Linked DNA regions of Homo sapiens. The protein of the gene in region 2 interacts with the protein of the main gene of each other region in a pairwise test. Each region holds a gene or a part of one and is shown on either strand. Other genes may lie near its edges.

The links. Proteins that work in one complex are often made in the same cells at the same time.
Region 1: the proteins of SSX2 (region 2) and AKAP9 interact in binary tests that used the Homo sapiens proteins (3 or more experiments, as listed by UniProt).

The regions. Positions count from the first base shown.
Region 1 is NC_000007.14:92,104,826-92,108,577, reverse strand, and holds part of AKAP9 (A-kinase anchor protein 9), read right to left. Parts: intron 2,901-3,752; coding exon 2,815-2,900; intron 1,286-2,814; coding exon 1,156-1,285; intron 85-1,155; coding exon 1-84. UniProt on the Homo sapiens protein: Scaffolding protein that assembles several protein kinases and phosphatases on the centrosome and Golgi apparatus. Required to maintain the integrity of the Golgi apparatus. Required for microtubule nucleation at the cis-side of the Golgi apparatus.
Region 2 is NC_000023.11:52,705,738-52,709,489, reverse strand, and holds the start of SSX2 (protein SSX2), read left to right. Parts: upstream 1-2,311; 5' UTR 2,312-2,378; intron 2,379-3,720; 5' UTR 3,721-3,740; coding exon 3,741-3,752.

The DNA.
Region 1 (3,752 bases), on a different chromosome or scaffold from region 2:
GTTAGGGCTCTGTCAGGATCGTAATTCTGAAGCTGAGAACATGCTAAAGAACCAGGATTGAAATCAGCTGGAGTGCCTGGGTACCTAAAGGATTAAAAATATGTACATGAATCAAGTTATCCAGAAATATGCATATAAGTTACCAACCTGCCTCCACTCCCTTCCCCAAAAAGGTGGGTCACTTGTACACACATAATGTATCTCCTCCAAGCTTCAGCTTTGGAGCTTGGGATGAGAAAGAGACAACTCTCCAATGAATTCAAAGATGCTACTAAGTCAACATAAGAATGTCCAATACAATGCTTGTGGCAGAGGTCTCAATAAATTGGGTATGTATAAATGTATCTTGTCATGAAGACTGTTAAGCTTTTCATAATGATCAGAGTATCAATTTTAGTCAATACTTTTCCCAATATCTAACCATAGCATACACTAAATAACACTTGGTCAGCTTGTTTGCTATACCCTTGGAAATCAGTTACAAATTTAAACACTGGTTTTTACATTTTTACATTAAGCCTTAGGTTATGTATATTTTTTTTCTTTTTTTTTTTTTTTGGAGACCAAATCTTGCTTTGTTGCCCAGGCTAGAGTGCAGTGGCGTGACCTCGGCTCACTGCAACCTCCACCTCCTGAGTTCAAGCGATTCTCCTGCCTCAGCCTCCTGAGTAGCTGGGATTACAGGCACCCACCACCATGCCTGGCTAATTTTTTTGTATTTTTTTTTGAGACAGAGTCTCGCTCCGTTGCCCAGGCCAGAGTGCAGTGGCACAATCTCAGCTCACTGCCAGCTCCGCCTCCCGGGTTCACACCATTCTCCTGCCTCAGCCTCCCAAGTAGCTGGGACCACAGGCGCCTGCCACCACGCCTGGCTAATTTTTTGTATTTTTAGTAGAGACAGGGTTTCACCATGTTGGCCAGGCTAGTCTCCAACTAGCTGGTCTTGAACTCCTGACCTCATGATCTGCCCGCCTCAGCCTCCCAAAGTGCTGGGATTATAGGTGTGAGCCACCGCACTTGGTCATATTATGTAAATTATATATAACAAAGATGTCTATCTCAATGCAAAGAAGTCAAAGCCCTAAAAATGTCCATTTATCTCTGTTAAATATTAATACATTTAACAATTCCAGGCAGGTTTTCTCATATTCTTACCTATTCTGAAATGGTAAAGGGGACCTAATATAGTCCAGATCTGATCTTGAGCGATACGTAGTATGTCTTGGTTCTCCATATAACTCCAGCCCACCAGAAGAATGATAAAATGAGTCAGTCTTTTCTGCACCTAAAGTAACCCAAAATATTCCTTGTAAAGAAAAATAAAATCCCAAGACCTTAAAAAATTTCTACAAAATAGGTAACTGCTCAAAAGACTATTATACTATATTATACAATCTCCTATTTATAGTCATTTTCTATTATTCTTGATAAAGGAGAAAACAGTACAAACAAAAATTCGGCTTTCAAATGTTATTTTGTTTACTTTTGAATATGAGTATTTCTGATATCTGGAATTATGTCTCAAAGAAAATTATTTAATTGGCATATTTTCTTCTTTAAAGACCTTAGCTCTAAGTAGATGAGAGGTGAGGGGTGTCTGAGTGGGTGTGGCTTGTGGGAAATGATGTGGATAAAAAATATTAGACCAATGTAACCATTCCAATCTACTGACTTGAAACCAAGATTTGCTAACTTTTAATAAAACACAACTTATTATGGTACAAATTTCAGCTGTTTCAGTGTAATGATATTTCAAAATACTTTGTGTAGGGTACCAAATCTATTTCCCCTCTGTAGGATGCTCAGCTCCTGGTAGAGTATGTAAAGGTGGTTTACTATGAATACACAGCACAGGGATGCTGTGTCCTCTGTGTGCTCCCCAGATTCGGACCTCATCTTTATTGCCAGAAATGTTCAAGCCCTAGTTTGTTTCCACTTCTAGGTGTAGACAGAAGGAATTTTAGCTGTTACCATTATTATACAACCTGTTGGTAAACTCAGAAACTTGTTTGAATATTGTTAAATTATGAAAACTTCCTAATTCTTCCATATGACTAACAGCAATCCTGTCTTGAACCGTGCCTTAAATGCAGTTATGAAGAGTGTGGGCTCTGGACCCAGACTGCCAGTGTTTGGTCCTGGTTCCATCACTTCCCTACTGGCCATTCTGGGGCAAATGACTTGTGTTTTCCATGCCTCGATTTTTCATCTAAAAGTGAGAGTAGTAAAACTGTACTTATATCATAGGATTGGGAGAATACATGAAAAGAGCATGGCCAGGTGCAGACTAAGTTCTCCATGAAAATCAGTTATTATTACCCTCTTTAAAACAGTGAAGTTACCTAGTTTTGGCAGTTATAAGGGCTTTGTCTTTGGAAAACATTGCTTCCAGAATTCATTACTTGGTAAGTATTACACATGCAGTAATTCAGAGCAGCAGTCCCCAACCTTTTTGGCACCAGGGACACATTTCATGGAAGACAATTTTTCCATGGACCCAAAGGGGCCAGAATGGTTTCTGGATGAAACTGTTCCACCCCAGATAATCAGGCATTAGTTAGATTCTCATAAGGAGCACACAACCTAGATTCCTCACATGTGCAGTTCACAATAGGATTTGTGCTCCTATGAGAATCTAATGCCACGGCTGATCTGACAGGAGGTGGAGCTCGGGCAGTAATGCCCGCTGCTCACCTGCTGCTGTGCGGCCTGGTTCCTAACAGGCCACAGACAAGTATGGTCCATAGTCTGGGGGTGGGGGACCTCTGATTTAGAGAGTCATAAACATAAGAAAATATGCTATTTTGACTTCACCTTGATTCAGTCCAAAGCCATCTCTGTTAATATTGATGGAAACAGAACCTGTGACTCGATGCCACCGTCGAACCAAAAATTTCATTCTAAAAAAGATTCCAAGATAAAATTTCACAGCCCATCTATAAACAGTATATACATTTCCTACAAAAATCACATCACACGTTTAAATATGAACATAGAACAAATGTCAAATTTCACAATTGCCCAGTTAAACTATGTCAATGCCTGTTGTGACAAAATCAACTGGAACGGAAGAATAGGGACTCAAAATCCCCTCATCCCCTTCCCAAGAGGCATTAGAGGTCTCTTATATTGCCAGCATCAGGTTCCAGCTTGAGGGATAAATGGGGTATAAGGAGATGGAAGGCAAAAGTAGATGGGAAAAGCAGATAGGCAAAGAAAGGGTGAGAAGTAATGAAAAGAGAAAAGAACAGAGAATAAAGGGCAGATGAGATAAGAAGAGAACAAAAAGACCCTTAAATTGGCAATAAGAATGTGCTGGGAATGCTGCAAGGTGGGTGAAGCTCTTGTCCCTTTGATCAGGGACAAAAAAACGTTGGTTTCAAAAGGAATGGGAGTGTTAGCTTCATGACCCAGGTGCAGCAAGTTACGACCTTCTTCCCCATCTTGGCCCAAGGAGCTTTTGGAGCACCAGTTTTGATTTACTTTGAATCAGTTCCAAGGCTCCATCTTAGGAGGGTCAAAATATGATAAACATAATCTTGGATAAGAAAAAGTGGGGCAGAGTGAAGTATGTCAATAACAACTTCTACACCGCTCTCATGAAGCCTCTCTAGATCCCTCTAATCAAAATTACTAGCTAACTCCTGTGACCTCCCATTTACTTATTATATTCTAAGTTCTGTGCATATTAGTCTTCCCCACTAGAAAGTGAGCTGCCTTTAGGTATTTAGGCAGGATTATATATTTTTTCA
Region 2 (3,752 bases):
CACTCCAACCTGGGCAACCAGAATGAACCTCTGACTCAAAATAATAGCAATAATAATAATTCTGTTCCTCTTATGGCAGTTACAACATCAAAAGGTAGCTTCATGGGTTCACTTCTCACGATAATACCCATTTTTTTTTCTGCATTTTCAGCAAGATTTTCTTGTTCTAAAACCTCAAGGGCTGCGATGGTCACTCAGCAGCCTAGTGGATTGCCACCGTATGTGGACCCATGTTCCCCTGGCTTAATGGTCAGCATTATGCCATCGTCCCACAGCACTGCAGACACAGAGTATCAACCTCCAGAAAGGGCCTTTCCAAGGAGGACTATATCAGGACTGACATTTTCATGATCAACAGCCAGCCATCTACCAGTTCTGGCCAATCCTATCTGTATTTCATCAACAATGAACAGAACCAAGCTGGGAGCATGAGATGGGACGAGGGCAAGTAAAAATACCACAAAGCTCACTGTTCTTACGGAGATTCAGCTGGTCTCTCTCTCGCTCTTTCTTTCTTTCTTTCTTTCTTTTTCAGTCTTGCTCTGTCGCCCAAGCTGGAGTGCAGTGGTGTGATCTCAGCTCAATGCAACCTCCACTTCCCGGGTTCAAATCATTGAGTGAGCCCAGGAGGTCAAGACCAACCTGGGAAACATAGCAAAAGGCAGGGTGGTGCATGCCTGTAGTCCCAAGGCCGAGGCGGGAGAATCACTTGAGTCCCAGAGGTAGAGCCCAGCCTGGACAACATAGCGAAACTGTCTCTAATAGAAAAATTAAAAATATTAGTGGGGGCGGGGTGGTGTGAGCCCATAGTCCCGAGGCCGAGGCGGGAGGATTGCTTGAGCCTAGGAGGTCGAGGCCAGCCTGGCCAACATAGCGAAACCCCATTTCTGCTAACAACAAGAACAACAGAAAAATAGCGTGGGCGGGGTGGCTCACTCCTGTAGTTTTGAGGCCAAGGTGGGAGCATTGCTTGAGCCCAGGAGTTTGATACCAGCCTGGCCAACAAAGCGAAAGCCTGCCTCTCCTAAAAAATAAATAAATAAATAAATAAATAAAAATGAGCGGGGTAGAATGGCACACGCCTATAGTTCTGAGGCCGAGGTGGAAGCATCATCTGAGCCTGAGAGGTTGAGGCCAGCCTGGGCAACATATCGAAACCCGGTTTCCACTAAAACGAAACAAAACAAAACAAAAAATAGCTTGGGCAGGGTGGTGCATGGCTGTAGTCCTGAGATGGGAGGATCCCTTGAGTCCAGGAGCTTGATGCCGGCCTGGCCAACATAGGGAAACACGGTTTCTACTAAAAAAAAAAAAAAAAAAAAAAGCGTGGGCAGGGTGGTGCATGCCTGTCGTCTCGAGGCCATGGCGGAAGGATCCCTTGAGCCCAGGACGATGAGACCAGCCTGGCCAACATAGCAAAACCTGGTTTCTACTTAAAAAAAAAAAAAAAAAAAAGCGTGGGCTGGGTGGTGAATGCCTGTAGTCCCGAGGCCGAGGTGGGAGGATCGCTTGAGCCCACGACGTCAAGACCAGCCTGGCCAACACAGCGAAACCTTCTCTATTAAAAAATCAAAAAATAAAAAATATTAGTGGGGGTAGGGTGGTTCGCGCCTGTAGTCCCAAGACGGAGGCTGGAGGATTGGCCAAGGCAGATGTAACCAATACCACAATCACATCCCATAAGTAAATACATTTTCCTCTCTTCAGGGCTACAGGTAAAGGATGGTAATTGTGCGCACCATACTTAAGATTCCCTTTCAAAAATGTAAGCAGAGGTTGCGGGGCCTTGGACTGTTTTTTCAGTGGCAACAGACATAGAAGCCACTGAAGAATGAAAGCCACGACTAAGTATAGCAAACCTCCGCAAATGTGCTAGTTTGGAAAACATCGTGTCTTTCAAGTAGAAAAATCACAGATTGACTATTTTTTTCTTCCCACAGTTCAGACTAGAATCCAGATTTTTAACCCAAGATCCAGGAACGGTCTTCAGAGAGTTCAAAATCTGACGGCGCCTGAGGACCACCCACTTTTTCGCAGTGGCAACAAAGTGTGGCTGGAGGAGGAGACATTATTCTGCTATGTCACTGCCCAAGGATGATGGACCAATCAGGGCAGTTAGTGAACTCCATCTGGCCAATTAGAAGTCAGAACAGTAGGCGGAACAAGCGAAGCGGATGTGGCTTCTATCAGTCCCGGCTCCAGGGACGGAACCTTCTCAAAGTGGGGGTGGAGACTCTAATTTTCCCGCCTAAAGCATCCCCTGGGATTGGCTACTTTAAGTTCAGAGTACGCATGCTCTGACTTTCTCTCTCTTTCGATTCTTCCATACTCAGAGTACGCACGGTCTGATTTTCTCTTTGGATTCTTCCAAAATCAGAGTAAGCATACGCCGATTTTCTTTTTCCATTCTTCCTACCCCTCCCCTCCTCCGCGGTGCATTTGCTATCTAGTTTTAATAAGGAGTGTATATGAGGCAGGCCGCCATCTCGAATCTTTCCTGTCAGTTTCTAACTTTTTCAGGTACGGGATTTTTCCTAGGAACTCTGTAGTAACTTAAGAAATTTGGGCCGGGCGTGGTGGCTTACACTTGTAATCCCTGCACTTTTGGAAGCCACAGCTGGTGGATCGCCTGAACCTAAGAGGCGGAGGTTGCAGTGAGCCATGATCACGCCAGTGCACTCCCGACTGGGCAACAGAGCGAGACCCTGTCTGAAAAAACAAAAACCAAAAAAGCTCACTCAAATCTTTCCTCCTGGGCTCAAGTGAGCCTCTCGCCTAGGCCTTGGGGCTACAGGCGCGCACCACCCCGCTTCTGCTAAATTTTGTTTGTTTTTTTTAGTAGAGATGGTTTTGCTACGTTTGCGAGCCTGGTCTCAAGCTCCTGGGCTAAGGCGATCCGCCCACCTTGGCCTTCCAAAGTGCTGGGATGGTACAGGCCTGCTCCACCAACCCCAGCTAACTTTTTGTGTATTTTGTAGACGGGGGTTTTGCTGTGTTTCCCAGCCGGGTCTCGACCTCCTGGGCTCAAGCGGCCTGCACGCCTCGGCCTCCCAAAGTGCTGGGATTACAGGCGTGAGCCACGGCGCCTGGCTGATTGCTGCATCTTGAAATGCCCCACATTCTCTCTAAGTGATGGCGGGCTCTTGTAGTCTCAGAAATTCTAGCTCTCTTCCTTCTAATAATTTACAAATCACCGAGTAATAGCCTCTGAACACGTTCATATTAGCGATGCTCATTTCTCTTCAACAGAACAGAACCCCCCATCCCTCTGCCTGATCAGATCCATCGCCAAAGAGACCATGTTATCTCTGGGACTAACTTCCCTTCCTTTATTTATTGAGTGGGGGTGTCAGCATGCCCCCACTGAATAAAATTACACAGTCATGTCCCTGCCTCCCCAAAAAGGGTCCGTACATCTTTCAGGGTAAGCCTAGCTCCAGGGAAACTACTAACAACATTAGCCAACCCCCTCCCAAAGACTCAAGGCTGCTTTGCCCATAGGAAACCTGTCATTCCCTATCAATACTTCTCCCAGAGACCCCTGGTTCCCTGTTTTCATCTGATTTCTCCCCATATCCTTACTCAGGGACAGATAAGCCCCGGATGGAGAAATGCAGCAGCTGATTCCAGGTGACTGAGGGTGGCCGGCCTTCACTGACTTCTCCCTCCACAGGATCAAAGCTGCTGTGGCTGGAAAGACTCAGGCTATTTCTCTTGCAGGTCAGACTGCTCCCGGTGCCATGAACGGAGAC